Linked DNA regions of Homo sapiens. The protein of the gene in region 2 interacts with the protein of the main gene of each other region in a pairwise test. Each region holds a gene or a part of one and is shown on either strand. Other genes may lie near its edges. The genes, in order: SH3GL3, ANTKMT, LUC7L2, LUC7L and ZNF76.

The links.
Region 1: the proteins of ANTKMT (region 2) and SH3GL3 interact in a two-hybrid assay, tested with the Homo sapiens proteins (one large-scale study listed by BioGRID and IntAct).
Region 3: the proteins of ANTKMT (region 2) and LUC7L2 interact in a two-hybrid assay, tested with the Homo sapiens proteins (one large-scale study listed by BioGRID and IntAct).
Region 4: the proteins of ANTKMT (region 2) and LUC7L interact in a two-hybrid assay, tested with the Homo sapiens proteins (one large-scale study listed by BioGRID and IntAct).
Region 5: the proteins of ANTKMT (region 2) and ZNF76 interact in binary tests that used the Homo sapiens proteins (3 or more experiments, as listed by UniProt).

What each region holds. Positions count from the first base shown.
Region 1 is NC_000015.10:83,610,751-83,615,585, reverse strand, and holds part of SH3GL3 (endophilin-A3), read right to left. Parts: intron 4,173-4,835; exon of another isoform or gene 4,169-4,172; coding exon of another isoform or gene 3,999-4,168; intron 1-3,998. UniProt on the Homo sapiens protein: Implicated in endocytosis. May recruit other proteins to membranes with high curvature.
Region 2 is NC_000016.10:718,973-723,495, forward strand, and holds ANTKMT (adenine nucleotide translocase lysine N-methyltransferase), read left to right. Parts: upstream 1-2,173; 5' UTR 2,174-2,302; coding exon 2,303-2,464; intron 2,465-2,625; coding exon 2,626-2,730; intron 2,731-2,828; coding exon 2,829-2,969; intron 2,970-3,111; coding exon 3,112-3,162; intron 3,163-3,336; coding exon 3,337-3,585; 3' UTR 3,586-3,618; downstream 3,619-4,523. Other genes in the region: CCDC78 (coiled-coil domain-containing protein 78), read right to left, coding at 3,706-3,817, 3,950-4,189.
Region 3 is NC_000007.14:139,418,136-139,422,000, reverse strand, and holds part of LUC7L2 (putative RNA-binding protein Luc7-like 2), read right to left. Parts: intron 1-3,865. UniProt on the Homo sapiens protein: May bind to RNA via its Arg/Ser-rich domain.
Region 4 is NC_000016.10:208,250-213,084, forward strand, and holds part of LUC7L (putative RNA-binding protein Luc7-like 1), read right to left. Parts: intron 416-4,835; exon of another isoform or gene 352-415; intron 1-351. UniProt on the Homo sapiens protein: May bind to RNA via its Arg/Ser-rich domain.
Region 5 is NC_000006.12:35,283,735-35,287,234, reverse strand, and holds part of ZNF76 (zinc finger protein 76), read right to left. Parts: intron 1,110-3,500; exon of another isoform or gene 1,108-1,109; coding exon 1,027-1,107; intron 914-1,026; coding exon 836-913; intron 805-835; exon of another isoform or gene 261-804; coding exon of another isoform or gene 245-260; intron 1-244. UniProt on the Homo sapiens protein: May be involved in transcriptional regulation.

The DNA.
Region 1 (4,835 bases), on a different chromosome or scaffold from region 2:
AATCCCAGCACTCTGGGAGGCCAAGGCGGGCAGTTCACTTGAGGCCAGGAGTTTGAGACCACCCTGGCCAACATGGTGAAACCCCATCTCTAAAAATACAAAAGTTAGCCAGGCATGGTAGCGCATGTCTGTAATCCCAGCTACTCAAGAGGCTGAGGCAGGAGGATCACTTGAACCTGGGAGGCGGAGGTTGCAGTGAGCTGAGATCACACCACTACACTCCAGCCTGGGTGACAGAGTGAGACTCCATCTCAAAAATAAATAAATAAATAAAATGTTAATAACTAGTAAAACTAGTTCATAGTCATTACCCTTCTATTTCAATATTTCCTTGCTATTCTCATGAATTCATTTAACTAGGTATATTTCAGTATTAATATGACACATTTCTCTCACAAAAATCTCACTTCAATTTTGACTAGTTCATACTTTTTTTCTTTGAGTATTAATAAGATTAATCTTAGGAGTTTTTTTTTTTCTTAATAAGTGACTTTTGCCATCCTATTTGATGATTTCCATTTTTATTTCCTTTTTCTGTTATAAGACTTTTTCCTCCCTCTAGACTTCAAGTGAGAATTGAACAAGTTCTGCTAGAGATTATGTTCTTTCTCCACTAAGTCTTCTAGGTCCAAGTAAAGAGAATAGGTACGTTGGGGTATTTCTGTGGCTGGCCAAATGAGATGCCCCTTTGTCCTGGGGAGGGGTAGAGAGGTGACAGCATTATGGGAGGAGGAAGACAAGAGTTGGGGCAATGGAGATTCCTGTTGTGAGAAGGATTATATTATAGTTGTTTAGACAGCTTGAAATTCATGGAGTAGCGCCTATATCTCTAAGGAACAGGGCACTCTAAGGAGCCTTCATCAGCGGAGCTCCCCAGGTTGTACCAAGGTGGCTTCCTGTTGCCTTCCTATGGCAGTGGTTCTCAACTTGGTGGCACACTAAACAGCCCACTGCCCAGGGTGAACCCGGCATCAGTATTTTTTGTTTCTCAGGTCCTTCCTATGTCCAGGGTAGGTTGACAACCACCAGTGAAATGATCCTCCCCTCTCCTTCCCCTAAGGAAGCGTTAAAGGTTAAAGAGACTCAGCTGGCGAGGAAAGAGAAGGGGGTAATGGTAGGGGAGCTCTTCTTCCTCTTCAGGGAGGCAGCTCCTGTACTGGGTCGTGACTTTGAAACTCTGAACCCACCTGCAATATAACCTCTATGATCTACATGATGTTTCTAGCCTCTAGACAGCTCCTTCCGTGACAGACCCCACCCCTGCCTAAGTCTGTGTATTCCTCTTGTCATAATGATGAAAGCTAGGGGGTGGAAGGCTGTAAATATTGGGGATTAGTTCACTATTTTGAATTTGAACAGAACAACATTCAATGATTTCAAACAAAGCATGGGGAATAGAGGGCTTACAATACAGAACTTTTCATTTTCCTTGGGTCATGGAGTGTGTATATGGGTGGGCAGGTGGGGGCTGAGCACTGAAAACCAAGGGCAACCTGAGCTGTGAGTCAAAGTCTACTTTATTAATGTATAACTGTTTTAATGTGGATTATAAAAATAATTATTATTCTTTTAGCATTTCTCCCACTACTAGACTAGTTTTTAACAGAGAAGGGGTCAGGTGCCAAACCACATGGTAGTCTCGGGAAGCATTTCCTTGAACACAGAATGTTAATGCTAGAATGGAATTTGGCAGTCCTCCATGAGTCCTCTCCTTTTCCAAGAGAAGCCATCAATGCCTCTGAGAGGTCATAATGGCCTGGCCCCAGGGCTACTGGCTGAGCCAGAAACAGGAGGGCTCCAGACCCTAGGCCATCAGCTACCTTGCTCCATGTCACCTCGTACATGATCTATGACACCACTAAGGGTTGCCAAGACATTTCATAGGCTGACACACTGATTACAGGGCTAATGATAGATAGATAGATAGATAGATAGATAGATAGATAGATAGATAGATAGATAGATTTATATATTTCCCTCCCATTTACTCTATAAGCCACCTGCAATGACCAAAATGCTTAGTGGCAAGCATACATTTGTCCAAGTGTATGCACCACCTCCATGTGTAAACCAGGCCACCACCTCCATGTGTAAACCTGGGTTCTTGCTGCACACACACACAGAACAAATCATGGAAAAGCTGCATTACTCACTTCTCATGTCATTCATTCTTGGCAAGGAACCACTGCCACATTGCCCACTTTGATATTCTGAGAGCTGGAAAGAGACCAGCACTCATATCACACTCCATCAGCACCTAAACCCAAGGCAGGGCATCTCTCCAGAGACCACTGAGTAGAAAGACCCTGTTCAAGAACTCCCTGACTCAGGCAGTACAAGTGCACCTGGCCCTCCAGCCACCACTGGGCTGGCTACAACACTAAGAGCAATTGGCACTTGCTAAGTAGGCAGTTGGTAAATCCACCCCAACCAGAGCTCAGACTGGCTGCCCTGAATTATACATGCAGCCGGACGATATTCTGAAGTATCAATGCATTTTTCATTCTGGGTCATTTCTGTTGCCTGGGGCCCTCAACCCAAGGAGCTGGGGCTTGCCTCCCTTACTTGAGGAGGAGGGTGGAACCCAGACATGAACAAAGCAGTCAATGTTTAGCTTTTAAATTCCCAAATAATACCATTTCAGTTGTGAAACATTGTGAAAGCCAAGGCTTTTAGGCTTTCATGCTAGAGCCAGGTAGGCTTTTATAAGATTTAAGAGCGAGAGAGAGAGAGAAACTTCTGGGTTCCAAGAACTAGAGCTTGAAGAACTCAGAGCCTAGCATTTTGATTACAAGCCATGGAGAGGGAGGAGCTGTTTCCTGCCATCCAGAGAAGAGATACAAGCTCTTTCTGGAGGCAGGGAAGCAGGGAAGGGGCCTGCAGTGAGAAGAGGGTGAGCAAGAAAATTGAAATGCTCCTTGGATGCCACCCTGGGGAAGGGGGTCTTAGACTCCACTTTCCACAGAAATCCCGGGAGAAGGCAGCTGTCAAAGTTCTCTGGACTAACACGGGGGCTGGAGCCCAGTGGAAACCATGTGGTGTCACTAAGTACAGATGGGGCCTGAAGGCTGGTCGCTCCCTGTGAACTGTGAACAAATTCCCTCAAGTCCCCAGCAGGAAGTGCTGAGGGGCCACTGAGGCCAGAGGCTGCCTGGGGGCAGTGACACACGGCTCCAAATACAGAGATTCAGCAACCCAGAGAGGGAGGCCTAAGCCACAGATGTCAGCACAGATCCTGGCCCAGGCCCCAGGCCTCCTGTGACGAGTCACCTCAGCTGTGGAAGTGAGCCTCCCTACCTGCCACCATGATGTTCTGTAAACCCCCCTCACATCTAGGCAACATCTTAGGACTGGACCAGGGGGAGGAGAGAACCTTCAAGAAAAACCAACAGCCCTGATAGGGAATTTCTACTCTGAATTGACTGTGTTTAAATCTGGAATCGCCTAAGTCATAAACGGATAGTCTATGCTTTCTATTGGAAGAGACTGAGCTACCTTGAAATGGCAAGATTATGCTTTTTTCCACCATTAGAAGAAATGGAAAAAAGATTTTAAAGCTTTTTTTTTTTTTTGGTCAACAACAGAAATGGAAAAAAGATTAAGTTGTTTCCGCCATTGGTCTACATAGAGGCTTGCAAGCAAGTTCAGTTCAGCTAAAGAGAAATTAAGTTGCTGCCCGCCTGAGGGACAGTGTGTGAATTTTCCCTTGACACAAAAGTCACCATGGATGGAGCCCCAAAGTCCAGGCAGAATGGGCTGGATTTCCTCAATGGAGGCTTTCCAACTGTTAGATATAAGCCTCTCCAAGGGACCTGAATGCTTGGTTTCCCACCATCAGAAGCCAGCACCTCAGCTGAAAACGTCTCGTAAGAAAAGACTGATCCTACCCAGCGTCCCATCCCTGTTGACAACCCCTTCCCCTTGCCCCTGTGGTCCTGCAGCTGGCAGTTCCTCATCCACCTCCACCTCCTTGCTCTCTCACATTCAGTAGCTGGCACCTGGAATCGCTGGGCATAGTTGTGTAGGAGCTCCCAGGTGGCTGCTGTGGATCTCGGTGTCCTTGAACAGGCGGCTGAAACCCCTGACCCTGGGCTGTCCAGTGAGACGGCTTCAGCCAGCACTGCCCTCCCCAAGTGGCCTTGTGTTGATTTTCTCTTACTCCTGAGACCTGGCTTCAACGAAACGTGAGAGCAGAGGTGGGAAAACACAGTCTTCCTTGTTAAAGTATTGAAACAAAGATTATTTTAACAGAGAAAAGGGAGTGTCCCTGTTAAATATTTATTATTCAAGCTCTGTTCCACACCATTAGGAAAAAGAGAAAGAGAGAGAGAGAGAGAGAGACCCTACCACAAGAGTTTAAGACGGCTGGTCAGTAAGTACTGTATCAGTAACACAGTAGGAGGTAGGAAAACCACGTCCCCCCTGAAATAAACTGAACTTCCCCCTTGGCATTAATATGGTTCAGTCCCTCTTATTTTAACAGCAGGAACATTATTTGCGGTGCCCCTCCCCCAACTCCACTTATTTTGTCTCTATATATATATATAGACACACACACATACATTTATACACACACACATACATATTATATATATATATATATATTTTTTGGCTGAAGTCCCTGCTGCTGCAAAGGGTTACTTGCATATGCAGAAATGCTGAGCACATTTTATTAAGGTAGAGGCGGTCCAATCCTACAATTCCTCAGCCCTACTCAGCTACAGGGACGAAATAATAACTCTCAGGTGTTAGTGTTTACCATGTGCCAGGACAATATTTTAAGTGTCTCAGAGATATTAGTGGATTTATGGATTTAATTCCCAGAGAAATCCTAT
Region 2 (4,523 bases):
CCCTCCTGCACCGCCTCCTCCACTCCTGTCTTGGAGAGGCTTTCCCGTGGGCCGAGCAACCCCCTTACCTTTGGCACTTGCCCTGATTCTCTGGCCAGCTTCCTACAACCTCTCCTTTTCAGCCACACCCAAGTCCACCTGTTCACAAACACCCTGGGCTGGGCCCTGGCCGAACCCTGGCTTCTACCTACCTGTCTCAGGAAGTGCCTGAGCCTTGCACCTACAGACCCTCCCAGAGAAAGCCCTGGCTTTGCAACCAGCTGTCTTCTCATGAGACACAGGGCCACAGGAGCACCACGGTGCCCAAATGGGTCTTGGAGCATTAGACCAGGGGCTTCATGCCTGCCCTGGGGACAGGTGGCCAAAGTGGCATGGGAGATAGGGAGACAGTGTGGGTGAGCAGGTGGGCAGGAGCTACAGGAGCCTGGGGCCTGTGGATCACAGACACCGCCAGGCAAGTGCCAGTTCACACAGGTACAGGTGGCTGCAGAGTGCCCAAAGGCCAAGCAGCAGAGTGCCTGGTGTGGACGGGAGAGGAGTGGGGAGGTTGGGCGCAGTGGCTCACGCCTGTAATCCCAACACTTTGGGAGGCCCAGGCAAGCAGATCATGAGGTCAGGAGATGGAGACCATCCTGGCCAACATGGTGAAACCGTCTCTAATAAAACACAAAAAATTAGCCAGACATGGTGGCATGCATCTGTAATCCCAGCTACTCAAAAGGCTGAGGCAGAGGAATCACTTGAACCTGGAAGGCAGAGGTTGCAGTGAGCCAAGACTGCGCCACTGCACTCCAACCTGGGCGAAAGAGCGAGACTCAAGTCTCAAAAAAAAAAAAAAAAAAAAAAAAAAAAAAAAAAGAAGAGTGGAGAGTGCACGCTAGAGTCCAATTAGGTGCATTCATCCAGTAAGCCTCCTAGGTAACTGCTCTAGGTGCAGGGAATAATGCAGGCAGCAGGACAGGAATGGGCGCTGTCAGCTCCCCCTAGAGCTCAGTGTACATACACCCTTCCTTTCCTGGGAGGGCCGTTCCAGGCCCCCAGGAGACAGGACACGCTGAGCTGGGTGGGGCTGGGGCCAACGTGGGCAGGCCTGTGAGACTCTGCACTTGGGAGCTGGGGGCTGTGGTCTGCGGCATACCCATGTCTGGAAGCAGCCTCTGTCCCTGCAGGGGCTCTAGACCCCAGCCACGGATGGCTAAGGAGGAGCTAGGCCAGGGCACGCATAGACAACCCCCGACATTCACGGGTGTTCAGCCCTACCCTGGGTGTGGAGGTCGTGGCCCAGCTGCCTGACCCAGAGCTCGGCTCTTCCACTTGCGCTTCCCACCCCCAGCTTCACAAGGTCACCTCCAGGAACTCAGTCTTTTTGTGTGTTGTTTTCTGGAGAAGGAAGGTGATCTCCCCACTCCCGGGGCTGTCTGCCTTCCCTGTAGCTGGCAGGTGCCAGAGGCCCCCGCCTGTGACATCCGGCTTTCCTCCCACCACACTCGCCTGAGAGCCAGCATCTGTCTTCTTGGGCCTGCTCAAGCTCTCCTCCGTGTCAGCCCCTCCTCCATGCCCTTCTCCCTCAGACCCCACCCCCCATCCCTTCACCGCCCACTGGGGCTCATCGCTCAGGCTGTAGGAGGGAAATGGAAGGATGTCCTCCCGGGCTCTGGCTGGCGCTGGGTGTCCGAGTCAGCGGAGCGCCCCCAGCAGTCTCCCCGAGGCAGAGTCATGGGGGTGCTGGCGCCTGGACGCTGTCTCATCCCGGGGAGCCGCTTTCCCACCGGCTCCCTGGGCTCCAGCCGCCCCACGCGAGCCCCCGGCTGGTTCTGGGGCCAGGACCGCCCCTCTCCAAGGCAGACTTCCCTTCATTCCACGACAAAGACGCGCAGCCCCGTTTCCCTGGGGCTCTAGCCCGTGAGATCGCCGGGTGTATCCCGACTCCCGCCGGCACGTGCGCTCCCCCAGGGCAGGGCCTGCCTGTCCCCTTCCGCGGGTCGCCAGCAGCCAGCACAGGCCGCAAACGGCGGTCCGCAGAGCGGACCAACGGAGCCGACCCTCGCAGGCTTGGAGCCGGACGCGGCGGGGCAGAGCCCCCGAGGCTGCAGCTCGCCGGAACCCGCGGGAGGGCAGCCGGGCTGGGCGGAGCGCACAGCGCCACGGACCGACCGCGCAGGCTCTGCCGGCCACTTCCGGTGTCGCGCGGCGGCTCCCGGCAGGAGGCAGAGGGCACACCGCCAGCCCCAGGCCAGGCTGCGAGGGCCGCGGACCCGAGCCGGGAAGGACCTTGGGCGGACGAGCCGCGCGTCCCGCAGCCATGGAGCAGGACGACCCGGTCGAGGCGCTGACGGAGCTGCGCGAGCGGCGGCTGGGCGCGCTGGAGCTGCTGCAGGCGGCGGCCGGCTCGGGCTTGGCAGCCTACGCGGTGTGGGCGCTGCTGCTCCAGCCCGGCTTCCGGCGCGTGCCGCTGCGGCTGCAGGTGCGGGGCGGGGCCAGGCCGGGCAGGGGAGCTCGGCTGCCGCTCAGGGTCTCAAGGTCTGGGCGTGGCCGGGGTGAGCTCCGCCCCGCCGTGTGGTAGTTCGGGCCGGGCTGCGGGCGGGGCGGGAGCGGCCAGTGGACTCTCGCCGCCACCCGGTCCAGGTGCCCTACGTCGGCGCGAGCGCGCGGCAGGTGGAGCACGTGTTGTCGCTGCTGCGAGGACGCCCCGGAAAAACGGTGGATCTGGGCTCTGGCGACGGCAGGATCGTAAGTGCCTGCGTCTGGGTCTTCGCCGCCCCACACCGCCCACCTGCTGGCGGGCGCCCCTGCCCACATCCTGGTTCCCACACTCTCGGTGCCCACAGGTGCTGGCGGCCCACAGGTGCGGCCTCCGCCCGGCCGTGGGCTACGAGCTGAACCCCTGGCTGGTGGCGCTGGCGCGGCTGCACGCCTGGAGGGCCGGCTGTGCCGGCAGCGTCTGCTATCGCCGCAAGGATCTCTGGAAGGTAACCTGGGGATCCCTGGCCACCCGCTGACAGCCCAAGGTGCGGCTGACACCTGCGAGGGCTGGGGGCCGGGACTCGGAAGCTGCGATGACCCGGTGCCCACCAGGCCTCTCCCCGGCCGGGGCGACTTCTCTTCCGGCAGGTGAGCCTGAGGGACTGCCGCAACGTGTCTGTGTTCCTGGCCCCTAGCGTGGTAGGTGCGGGGTTGCCAGCCCCGCTGGGAAGCCCCAGCCACACCCCAGGGTGTTTGCTGCTCTGAGGCCTGGGCCTGCCTGGTGGGTGCTAGGCTTGGGGCTAGGGGGGTGAGCGCGGCTGTTTTCTACCGGCCCCGCCCCCGCCCCCTCTACTCTGCTGTTCTCTCCCTCAGCTCCCGCTGCTGGAGGACAAGCTGCGGACAGAGCTGCCTGCTGGGGCCCGCGTGGTGTCTGGGCGCTTCCCACTCCCCACCTGGCAGCCTGTGACCGCGGTTGGCGAGGGCCTGGACCGAGTATGGGCTTATGATGTTCCTGAGGGTGGGCAGGCTGGGGAGGCCGCCTCCTCGCGGATACCCATCCAGGCTGCCCCCGGACCTAGTTCTGCCCCCATCCCGGGGGGCCTTATTTCTCAGGCCAGCTGAGTATTAGACACGATAAAGACTCTGTGGGTTCTATCCTGACTCATGTTTTATGGGGGGCTGGGTGGGAGGGTTCTGTGCTGGCTGAGGAGCTCTGCTCTGCTCTGCTCCTTGGGAGACGGCCTAGTGGCTGCCGGTCCTTGGATGCTGGGGCTTGGCTGGAGGCACAGCCCCCACTTTCCAGGGGTCCCCTGCACCTGCCAGCTTCCTCAGCCTCAGGATTTCGTGCTTGTACCTGCTCAGAGGAACCATGCTTAAGTGACTTGCCCAGCTGTGGACAGGTCTGCTTTTAGCGCCTGAGGCAGCCATCATCCTTCATTCCAACCAGACCAGGGCCCTGGGGTCACACCCAGCTCCCTCTGCCCACCTGCCCAGGTGCTGGTCCACGTACTCCTGTAGCTCAGAAAGTTGCTCTTCAGCCATCGTGGCCCGGACCAGCAGCTGTGCCCGCTCCCGTTCCAGCTCTGCCTGGCATGGGGATGTAAGCCATGAGCTGGGGCATGGCGTGAGGATGGGCCTGGGCCAGCCCTTGCCTCCTACCTGGGTGCTGCGGGAGAAGTCCCGGAGCTTCTGGTGGATCTGGGCCCAGGATGCAGCGTCCAGGCCCCTGTGAGGGGAGAGGAAAGGAGGAGTGGTTTTGAGAGCTGGCATGGTGACACAGGGACAGACGTGACCGTGCTGAGTCAGGTTCCCAGAGCCGGGAGGGGACACCTGGGAGTGAGTGAGGGAGGCATGGGCCCCCCCCGTGCTCCTGTGGCGCCCCCCCCAGGCCTTGGAGCCATCCGTGTATAGGGACAGCCCGGGCCCAGGGGGTCTGCTGGCTGCTGGGGGAGGGCTAAACCACAAGGCCAGCCCAGACAGTGACTCCAGCATCAACAGGGATGCCACCCCCACACGGGTGTGCCCTAAACCCCAGGAAATGGTCCTTGGGGAGCCCTGCC
Region 3 (3,865 bases), on a different chromosome or scaffold from region 2:
TGATAAGGGCATTAAAACAAGAAGATGGGTGAAAAACAAATAGCAGAGGGTCAGAAGGCTAAAATAATTTCTTACAGGCTACTCTCATCTCAGAGACAACACAGAGTTTCTCCAATTCATAAAAGGTATTTTAATATAAAAAATAATACATAGATAACAGCTTTAAAAAGTGAAAGAAATGTATTATCTAAATTTTAAATGGCTTAGAATAGGGGCCAGATGGTGACTATCTGGGGTACTGCAGGTCCATGCAATCTTTGTGGCAGTTCTTTTCTTTTTAGAATGTAAAAACCATCCATAGCTTGCTGGTTGTACAGGCTACCGGCCAGATTTGGCCTATCGGCAACAGTTTGCCAACACCTGACTTAGATAAGAGAACTACTCAATTATTAATATGAATTTAAATAACCACTTCTAAAAATCTACTCATACTGAGTTAGCTTATTCAACCAACAAGGGGAAATAAAAAAAGACAAAGATGCTCACACTAATAAATCTTGATTAGCCATAACTGTTTACTACCTTCTCCATTCCCATACCCAACTTCATTATAAGAAAGGTAAATAATAAATCAATCGGAAAACCAAACATATTATGGAATCAGAATAAACATGGAATCTTCCATACTTCCAACATCTAAAATTCAACAAATTACATTTATTTGGTTCTTTACAGGTGACACAGCACTTTTACATAATTATCTCACTCAACCCATATTCAAAATTAGGATCTGAGGCACTACCAAGAACCTGAATAAGTAATACTTTCAGGAAAATAAAAAATATGACTGTTCAGTTTTAGAAATATAGTTAAGGAGGGTTAAACAAAAAATGGTTCTAAAATAATGTCCACTTTGAACATTCTACTTAATGTTTTAATAAACTTAAAATGATATAAAAAGACTGGGCACGGTGACTCACGCCTGTAATCCCAGCACTTTGGGAGGCCAAGGCAGGCAGATCACTTGAGGTCAGGAGTTCAAGACCAGCCTAGCCAACATAGTGAAACCCCCGTCTCTACTTAAAATACAAAAAATTAGCTGAGAGTGGTGGCGTGTGCCTGTAGTCCCAGCTACTCGGGAGGCTGAGGCAGGAGAATCACTTGAACCTGGGAGGCGGAGGCTGCAGTGAGCCCAGATCGCATTACTGCACTCCAGCCTGGGTGACAGAGCAAGACTCCATCTCAACAACAACAAAAAATCACAGTGCCAAGTCTAGTGATTCCACGTCTACACTAGTCCTATCCATAGCCTTTGTTGGAATAAAATATGAAAAGAGATGGTAAAAATGATACCTAAAAAGACACTAGATGCCAAACAGTCCCAGTGATCAGTAATAACTAAAAAACTATGAGTATCAACTACTATGTCCCACACATAGTGGTTTCCATATACTATTTTACTCAAACTACCAATAATCTTAACAAAGCAGGTATTCTTACTTTCTCCACTTAGTAGATGGGGAAAGACAGGTGAGATAGTTATAAATTACTTAGCCAAGGTGGGACGTGGTGGCTCATGCCTGTAATCCCAGCATTTTGGGAGGCCAAGGCAGGTGGATCACCTGAGGTCGGGAGTTTGAGACCAGCCCGGCCAACATGGCGTAACCCTGTCCCTACTAAAAATACAAAAATAGCCAGGTGTGGTGGCCTGGGCCTGTAATCCCAGCTACTTGGGAGGCCGAGGCAAAAGAATCGCTTGAACCCGCAAGGCAGAGGTTGCAACGAGCCGAGATCGCGCCACTGCCCTCCAGCCTGGGTGACAGAACGAGACTCTCGTCTCAAAAAAAAAAATAAATTACTTAGCCTAAACCAATGAACCCAAGTAATCTGACTTTGGAGTCTGCACTAAACATGTTTGAACAGAGCAAAAAGATAGATAGATGCAAATGGTCCTCATTTACGCAGGGCACTATTGCCAGGAAGAGGTCACAAAGAATCTACTTGTATCAGAGACAAGTATTTCACAGTAGGGAAAGGAGAACAGCAAAACATAAAAGGCTTTCAATAAGAACTTTTACCTTGAAAAATTAAACCCAAATATGTAGCAATAACTTGATGTTGTATGAAATACCAAGTAGGTTTTAACAGCAATTATCTGGTAATTTTTAGTATAAAACAAAGAATGATGCTTTAAAAGAGAATAATTTGAATTCAAAGATGAGAAAGTGCTCGAGAAAAGCAAAACTTTTAATAGTTTTACAAAAATAATCCTCTTTATGAACATGCTGACATCTTAGATATGATCATGTATCATGTATGGTGGAAAAATTCCTATACAACTTCATCAACGCAGGAAGCATCAGGGACTAAAATAACACAATCTCAGATTAGGGGACTTCACGCCCATCCTTCCCATACCCATCACCAATAAAGACATTTAGGAGTTCAGCAACAACAATGACAGTTGGGCAGATTTGACACAGGAAAATGTCTAAACCTTCCATCACCTAGCAGGATAATTCTGAAAATTCATTGTGCAGATAAGACAGGTAACTTTTAAAAAATGCTTATTTCTGAACACTGCACTGAGGGTAGACCCCCAAAATCAGTTTCAAGAGTGTGAGATAAGAGGCCTACAAATCACTCTGTCCTTTACAAACTCCCTCCTCATTCTCTGCATTTGCCTAGGATATTCACTCTATATGGAATATCTTTTTCCTAGCTGATTCTACCTGTTCAAATTTTACCGACTACCTGAAGCCATTTTTGATTACTCTGTTATTTGCCTCATCTAAACTCTCGGATCATTTATTCTATGATATGCAGTTTAGCACTTTATAACATGTGGTAGTCTTATGCCAGTCTAATTATTGTCAAAGATGTCAATCCTTTGTTCTAACTCACATAGGAGACTTTTTGTTTTTTTTTTTGTTTGTTTTTTTTTGTTTTGAGAGCTGGAGTCTCGCTCTGTCACCCAGGCTGGAGTGCAGTGGTGCGATCTTGGCTCACTGCAACCTCCACCTTTGTGTTCAAGCAATTCTCCTTCCTCAGCCTCCTGAGTAGCTGGGATTACAGGCATGTGCCACCATGCCCGGCTAATGTTTGTATTTTAGTAGAGATGGGGTTGGTTGGCCAGGCTGGTCTTGAACTCCTGATCTCAAGTGATACGCCCATCTCGGTCTCCCAAAGTGCTGGGATTATAAGCGTGAGCCATGGCACCCAGCCTCACATAGGAAACTTCTTAGAGCAACTTAAAGTTGTTCAACTATGTTATACGTCTTTCTTATGTTTTACTAAGTCTAGTACAGTAAAACATATACAATTAATTATTATTAAAATCACCTTAAGAAATACTAAAAACAAGGCCAGAATATAAGAAATAAAATATTGAGAGCCTATTAACAAACTCAGCTTGTGAGTGATTTCAGGGAATGGAAAGTTGAGTCAAAAAAAAATAGGAAAGATTTTAACAGCTTTCTGTGGATTTTATTATAGATTTTATGTGGAGTAATCCACAGAATATGTAAGACTAGTAGGTACTAGGCACTCAAAAAATGTTTATCATACATATACTTCTGAATAGTTGTCAAGAAAAAAGCAATTTTAAACATGGCTTACGTTACACAGAAATTACCTGGTTTAAGGGCCATCATGTGACCTGAGAAGTTTTGACAGTTTGATCTATACAGACTATGAATGCTAAACTCTTCTACCACATTATAATCCTTTGTCTATCCTTAATAGATATTCAAGTCCTCAAACATACCTTACCCTATGCCTGCACCTTTTGAATGTTCTCATTAAACCAAGGGAAGTCTTGGAACCTCCTTATTAGTCTGCCTTGCCAAGCTGAAGGTATGTAACAATACATATCTATAGTGCAGATAAAACAAGAATATACTAGAATGTGTCTGCTCTGAAAAAG
Region 4 (4,835 bases), 510 kb from region 2:
CATTTGCTTGATAGGAAATACACTCCTAGGTTCGTTTCTTTAAAGCCTGTACATTCAAGGGAAAGATCTTAAACTACACTACCACTAACGCATTCATAATTGCATTAAATCAAGGGGATCTGTTAAACAGAATGATTGTTTGGAAGCATGGTCTTCTCATTTGATTTACTTATTTCCAAAATTTGTAAAAGGACCTCCAACCCTCAATAACATTACAAAGAAATTCTGAGGAAAATTAAAACACTTGGCAGCAATTCATAGAGTTCTCGGAGGGACAGAAAAGGCTGAGCCTAGACTCGTGCTGGAGGCCCTCTTCTGGGGAGTTGTGAGAGATGCATATGATGTACTCACTGGTCTTTGTGAGCCACGTAAATATTATTCCCTCATGTTCTGAGGGTAGGGTCCCCCCTTTCACCTCAAAAACAAAACAATAGAACAAATATTACTGAGAGCTATGAATACATTTTGTTATTGCCTACTATCTAAAGTAGCAGGAAAAATTGGTTGCTATTTACCCAAAGAGATAAAGGAAAAGAAGCTGTAGACGTCAAATTGCTTACTCTGAAAAGGGTGGTGGGAAACATTAAGAGAACTATCATATGCTAAGGTTAATTCACCATAACTAGGCAAAGGCTAACATAATTTCAGATAAAAACAGAGACAGGACCGGACGCAGTGGCTCACACCTGTAATCCCAGCACTTTGTGAGGCCAAGGTGGGCGGATCATGAGGTCAGGAGTTCAAGACCAGTCTAGCCAACATGGTCTCTAATAAAAATACAAAAATTAGCTGGGCATGATAGCGGGTGCCTGTAATCCCAGCTACTCAGGTGGCTGAGGCAGGAGAATCGCTTGAGCCTCGGAGGCAGAAGTTGTAGTGAACTGAGACCAGACCACCACACTCCAGCCTAGGCAACAGAGCAAGACTCCGTATCAAAAACAAAAACAAAAACAAAAAAAGGCAGGGCCCAGTGGCTCACACCTGTAATCCCTGCACTTTGGGAGGCCGAGGCGGGAGGATCCATGAGGTCAGAGGTTCAAGACCAGCCTTCCCAATACAGTGAAGCCCCATCTCTACTAAAAACATAAAAATTAGCTGGGCGTGGTAGCATGCACCTGTAGTTCCAGCTACTCAGGAGACTGAGGCAGAAGAATCGCTTGAACCTGGGAGGAAGAGGTTGCAGTGAGCCGAGATGGCACCACTGCACTCCAGCCTGGGCAACAGAGCAAGATTCCATCTCAAAAAAAAAAAAAAAAAATAGGGCATCACTTTTCCGACTGTCAGCCAGTGACCAGTAGTAAGAAACACTAACATTAAACCATGAGTCAGCTTGCTAATGTCAGCATCATGATAAACATAAATAAGTTTGTTTTGCAATGATGACAAGGTTAGATAGCATGATCTTTTACCAAAAACTAAATTTTAGGTGGAGATGAGAAGGCAGATGACAGGAAAACACTAAGGGGTGATAACCTAAGTCACCGCTCCTAAAACAGACAGGAGACAGTAGGTCAGCTGTAATAAACTGCTCCACAATGGATTACACAGACACTGGAGAAGATTGTGATCTTCTCTAGAAATCTTAAATATTTTTTTCAAAAACATGCATACTTGGGAGTAGGTAAGATAGGGAAGAACCTCCAAGTCTCCTGGTGCCCAGTCTCCCAAGAAGCTGGAGAAAGCACAAGCAGCATCACTGATGAAGGCTGACTCCCAGATATCACTCCATAATTTTGGAATTCAAAAACTGCCTCTTGGCCAGGCGTGGTAGCTCACGCCTGTAATCCCAGCACTTTGGGAGGCCAAGGCGGGTGGATCACTTGAGGTCAGGAGTTCGAGACCAGCTTGACCAACATGGAGAAACCCCATCTCTACTAAAAATACAAAATTAGCCACGAGTGGTGGTGCATGCCTGTAATCCCAGCTACTTCGGAGGCTGAGGCAGGAGAACTGCTTGAACCTGGGAAGCAGAGGTTGCAGTGAACTGAGATCGCGCCATTGCACTCCAGCCTGGGCAACAAGAGCGAGACTCCCTCTCAAAAAAATACATAAACTGCTTCTTGTTGGTCACCCAGATATTCTCTAGTCAACATTTCAGTATGTTCAAATCAAAGAATCAGGAAAACAAATGATCCGGCATTTGACTGCTTCTATGCACCTGTACACTGGACTTTCTGGAAAGGTGAAGAGCTGGCTGGAGCTCATCAGGATCCAAGTATTAAGGAGCTGACAAGGGTCACTGTGCCTTCTCTTCTGTGCTTACCTCAGACAACAGCCCCTAACAGACCAGTCTGAGATGCTCCAGGTTCACCCACACAGTGGCCCTGTACTGTCTGCTCAAGCTGAGCAATCAATCACCAACCTGAGACAGATTCAGGGATTCACTCGAGGGGTCAAATGGGAAATAGGCAGCTGACAACTCTCCCAATACCTAAACCCATCAAAGCAATTACCTGCACCTTAAGCAGAATCCAAATTGGCTATGGACTCAGATGTCTGATAACCTAAAAACTAAATGGTGGCCGGGCGTGGTGGCTCACGCCTGTAATCCCAGCACTTTGGGAGGCTGAGGTGGGCGGATCACGGGGTCAGGAGATCGAGACCACCCTGGCTAACACAGTGAAACCCCGTCTCTACTAAAAATACAAAAAATTAGCCGGGCGTGGTGGCGGGCGCCTATAGTCCCAGGTACCCGGGAGGCTGAGGCAGGACAATGGCATGAACCCGGGAGGTAGAGCTTGCAGTGAGCAGAGACTGTGTGCCACTGCACTCCAGCCTGGGTGACAGGGCAACACTCCGTCTCAAAAAAAAAAAAAGAACACTAAATGGTAGGCCCAGCACGGTGGCTCACGCCTGTAATCCCAACACTTTGGGAGTCTGAGACCAGCCTGGCCAGTATGGTGAAACCCCATCTCTACTAAAAATACAAAAAATTAGCCAGGCGTGGTGGCGGGCACCACTGGTTGCTATTTACCCAAAGAGATAGAGGAAAAGAAACTCTAGACGTCTAATTGCTTACTCTGAAAAGGGTGGTGGGAAACACTAAAAGAACTATCATATGCTAAGGTTAATTCGCCTTACGAGGTGAATCCCAGCTACAAGGGAGGCTGAGGCAGGAGAATCGCTTGAACCTGGGAGGCGGAGGTTGCAGTGAGCCAAGATCACGCCACTGCACTCCAGCCTGGGCGACAGAGCAAGACTGGCTCAAACAGAAAACAACAACTATAAATGGTAAACTTCACAACAGAGAACAAGCCAACCAAGAGCTGCCAAGTTCTTTAAAAGGTGGCTTTCTGTTCTACTGCCCTCTCCCTTCAAAGTGTTTCTCAACTTTAGCCTGTTTCTTAAAAGAGCAGATCTAAATGATAAAAAAAAGACATTCGATTCCAAAAATTAAGTCCTAATCACAACCTACCACTTACTAGAAAGTCACCCAATCTCTCTCTATCTCTGAGTAGCGTTATGAAACATAAACCCTAAAAGCCCCTGAGCACAGACAGCACCAGCACAAAGACTTGTGTCCTAACAGTATGGCAAAACTGGACAATATCAGCACACGTCATCTCCACTGAGGAGGCTGTCCCTCCACACACGGACTGCCTGGTGCTGTTACCAGCTCTCCCGGCCCAGCAGCACTGACACAGGCCGGTGGTCACTGAGCCTGAGAAAAGCCCATGATGTCAGTCAGAACTGTCACAGCAGACAGGTGCCCTTGTGCTGCACTAGGCACGTGCGCTAAACACCTCCAAAGAGCCGCAGAGGGGCCGGGCGCGGTGGCTCACGCCTGTAATCCTAGCACTTTGGGAGGCTGAGGTGGGTGGATCACCTGAGGTCAGGAGTTTGAGATCAGCCTGACCAACAAGGAGAAACCCCATCTCTACTAAAAATACAAAATTACCCAGGCGTGGTGGTGCATGCCTGTAATCCCAACTACTCAGGAGGCTGAGGCAGGAGAATCACTTGAACTCGGGAGGCGGAGGTTGCAGTGAGCTGAGATCGTGCCATTGCACTCCAACCTGGGCAACAAGAGCGAAACTCCATCTCAAAAAACACAGCCGCAGAGGAGCTCGTCGGGTCTCCATTGCATGGATGATGAAAGTGAAGCACAGCTACCAAACCACTAAGTAAGCAATGGAGTCAGGATCCAAGGACCCTTGTGGTCTGGCTCCAAAGACCTGCACTTCATCCTCACAAATCTGAGGCAGCCATCGTCAGCCCAGTTTATAGATGAAAAAAAGAAGGTGAAATAACTTGCCCAGGGTCACACAGGGACTCTAACTCAAGACATTTGACCTAGAAAAATGTCACTCTTATACTGGACAACTGTAAGACAGGAAAACTACATACAATCAGAACTGGTCTCATGTGGTATATTAAAAACAGCTTTGAAATGAGCCCATATATGTTGTTTTGAAAACTTTTCAAAACATCACATGGCCAGACAACATGGGAGTAAAGGTTAATTACACTTTTGGTGAATTACAAAGACACATTCATTACATTTTCAACATGTGAACACTAAAGAAATATACCTTTTTTTTTTTTCCCGAGAGGATCTTGCTCTGTCACCCAGGCTAGAATACAGTGGCACGATCACGGCTCACTTTAGCGTTGACCTCTCAGGTTCAAACCATCCTTCCACCTCAGCCTCCAAAGCAGGTAGGACTATAGGAACACGTCACTACACCCAGCTAACATTTCTGATTTTGTAGAGACTTTGCCCAGGCTGGTCTCGAATTCCTGGGCTCAAGCAATCTTCCGGCCTCTGCCTCCCACCAAAGTACTGGGATTACAGGCGTGAGCGCACACCTGGCCATCTGTAACTTTTTCAGAGC
Region 5 (3,500 bases), on a different chromosome or scaffold from region 2:
GATAAAGACCAAAATCCTCACCCTGACACTCAAACCCAGAGTGCACCAGCCCTGTCTTTCTCTCTCCAGTTTCCTCCTGCTCATTCTGCCTTCACTCCCAGGGCTCTAGCTCCTAGCAGTTCCTGGAATGTGCTGTTCTTTCTTCCCCCCAGCTCTAGGCCTGCACATGCTATTCCTTCTGCCTGAAGTACTGAACCCTCCCTGCCATCCCTCTTCCCCCAGCTAAGTCTACCTCATTCTTTACCTCTCAGCTCAAGCATCACTACCTCAGAGAAGCCCTCCCTGAGCCTGATCTCTGTTTGTAATGATCAGTTCATCACTGATGGCTTGTTTCACTTCTGTTTCCCCCTCTAGACTCTAGGAGAGCGGGGACTGTGTCTGACTTTGTTCTGTCTTGTATACTGCACACCTAACACAACGCCAGGCATGCAACAGTCACTCAAGAAACCACCTGCGGAAGGAATAAATTGTTATTCTTCAGCACCTTAGGAGCTTCATTCTAAAATATTAGTTTTTTTTCCTGGTCTTGGATGATATCCTCGGGTCCTATTTAAAGCCCTAAGACTTTGTGGCTGTGCTGGAGCCAAGGCCACCATCAAAGTCCACGTCACTGATCTCCAAGGCTCACCTCCCAGTTGCAGACATAGCTGCTCCTGTGGTCTGCACCAGGGAAGGTGGGCAAGGCTGCTAATCCAGGTGAGCATGTGTGTACCATGGAGATGACAGCTCCCATGTCTACACCCCAGTTGTGTGCCATCCCATCCTCCAGTCCTGCCACCCCATCCTCCAGTCCTGCCTCCCATCCTTCCCCGAGTTGTGATGATGGTGACCCTACCTCTGGGTGTGCGGTGTATGTAAGCCATGCTGCCATCTTCCAGCTGCACAGGCTGACCATCCTCAAAGGAGAGAGCTTCTGTAACGAGAGCAATGCCTGCCTTTCCCTGGAGCTCAGTGCCATGGAGGGGTCCCTTGGTGGGGGCTGTCAGGCTTCCCTCGACAAGGCATGGTGTGTTGGGGTGCCCTCACCTTTCTGTACCGTCACCTGGTGAATGTATGCGGTGGTCCCATCCTCGAGCTGGATCACCTGCCCTTCAAGAAGCTTCTCTCCTGTTAAGAGTGGAAATAGAGAGAAATGGGCCAGGACCAGAAGAGGGCTAAGAAACGCCTGCCTGTTTTTAGCTGAGGCTTATTTGAGTCTCTAGGCACGAGCCTGCAGGTCTAAGCATGGGTAACATCTTCCTTGTTCCCTTGCTCTGTCTCCCTGGGCCTGGGCCTTGAGACACTAAGGGTGAAGACACTTGCCTTGCCGAACCCATCACCTCCCAACAGATTCCCTTCCAGTTACTAACAGGAGGAATAACTTCACTTATTATTCTACCCATGCCCAGCCAAGTGGAAACTTCCAACCTAATAGTAAGTTGCTGAGACTTGAACTAATGGCCCTTAAACCTGGATGAGCCCCAGTGGGTCAAAATTCAGATATAGCTCAAACTAACAAAATCAAAACATATCCCCTCATCCCTCACTATGACAGTGTGCTAAGACCAGGAGCCCCTGTGAAGGCAGGATATATAGCTTAATGGTTAAAAACAATAGACTCTGGAACCAGGCCAGGCCTCCAGAGTTTGAATTCCAGCTCTACCTCTTAACAGCTGTGTGACCTTGGACAGCTTATTTAACTAACCTCTCTGTGCCTCAGTTTCCTTTTCTTAAAATGGGGATTGAAAACTGTGTCTCTTATAGGGTTGCTGTTAGGGTTAAATGAGTTAACGAATATAAAAAACTGGGAAGAGTGCCAGGTATATATGGTCAGCCCTCAATAAATCCTAGCTTTTATTATAAGCCCAATATGCATTTTAGAAGAAATGGAAAGTAAAGCAATAGAGAACTATGTGAGCACAACTATTATGCTATTATGTGTCCATGAAGGTCTTATTCCACTGCCACTGTTGAGTAATGTTCCTTCATTGACCTCTCATTTTTCATTTCAATTTTCTAGTAAAAAATTAGATCACCTAAGGCAACACAACAAGCAGCATAAAAATTAACAAGCCTCCAGATTTCCTAAGATATTACTCTTCCTTTACCTTACTGGAAAGCACTTCTAATAAGGCTCTTGAAATTAGAACTAGACGACCCTTCCTTGTGTCCAGTGAGTCTGACAGAGGGGGAAGGAAGAAGAGAAATGAGAAAGGAAAGAAAGGGAGATTGAAGAGTTAATGATGGTCAGATTCGGTGGCTCATGCCTATAATCCCAACACTTTGGGAGGCCAAGGCGGGTGGATCGCTTGAGCTCAGGAGTTTGAGACCAGCCTGAGCTATGTGACAAAACCCTGTCTCTACAAAAAACACAAAAATTAACTGGATGTAGTAGTGCATGCCTGTGGTCCCAGTTACTCGGGAGGCTGAGGTGGGAGGATTGCTTGAGCCCAGGAGGCAGAAGTTGCAGTAAGCCGTGATTATGCCACTGCAGTCCAGCCTGGGTGACAGAGTAAGACCCTGTCTGAAAAAAATAAAAAATAAATAAATAAAAAGGCTGGGCACGGTGGCTTACATCTGTAATCCCAGCACTTTGGGAGGCCAAGGCGAGCAGATCACCTGAGGTCAGGAGTTTGAGACCAGCCTAACCAACATGGTGAAACCCTGTCTCTACTAAAAATACAAAAAAATTAGCTGGGTGTGGAGGCAGGTACCTGTCGTCCCAGCTACTCGGAAGGCTGAGGCAGGAGAATCACTTGAACCCGGGAGGCGGAGGTTGCAGTGAGCTGAGATTGTACCACTGCACTCTAGCCTGGGTGACAGAGTGAGGTCCTGTCTCAAAAAGAAAAAACAAAAAAGTAAGGCTGGGTGTGGTGGCTCACACTTATAATCCCAGCACTTTGGGAGGCTGAGGCAGGCGGATAACCTGAGGTCGGGAGTTCGAGACCAGTCTAGCCAACATCATGAAACCGTGTCTCTACTAAAAATACAAAAAAATTAACCAGGCGTGATGGCACATGCCTATAGTCCCAGCTACTCGGGAGGCTGAGGCAGGAGAATCGCTTGAACCCGGGAGGCGAAGGTTGCAGTGAGCCGAGATCACGCCACTGCACTCCAGCCTGGGCTACAGGGTGAGACTCCGTCTCAAAAAAAAAAAGGAAGAAAAAATAAAAAAAAAGTTAATGACAAGTGATTTGTCCTTTCCTTAGAAGATTGAGGTTTAGGAAACTGAGCGCTCAGGTGGGAAAGACAGTTACTTCCAGCCCAAGTCTCTGCTGACGTCTCCCCTTTAGAGGAATCCCCAAACTTGCTCCCAAACTGAGTCTTCTTGGGGTCAGTAACTAACAGTCCTACAACTAACCAAAGGCAGGTAAGGTGGAGATAAAGGTAAGAAATAGGAAAGGCAGCTGAGATGGGGGGAAGATGAACCCATTTTCTTCCCTCCCACCCACAGAGCAGTAGGCTACCCTCATTTTAACAATTTATCTGTCCTGGCAAGGGCATCAGTACTTGGGGTTCTG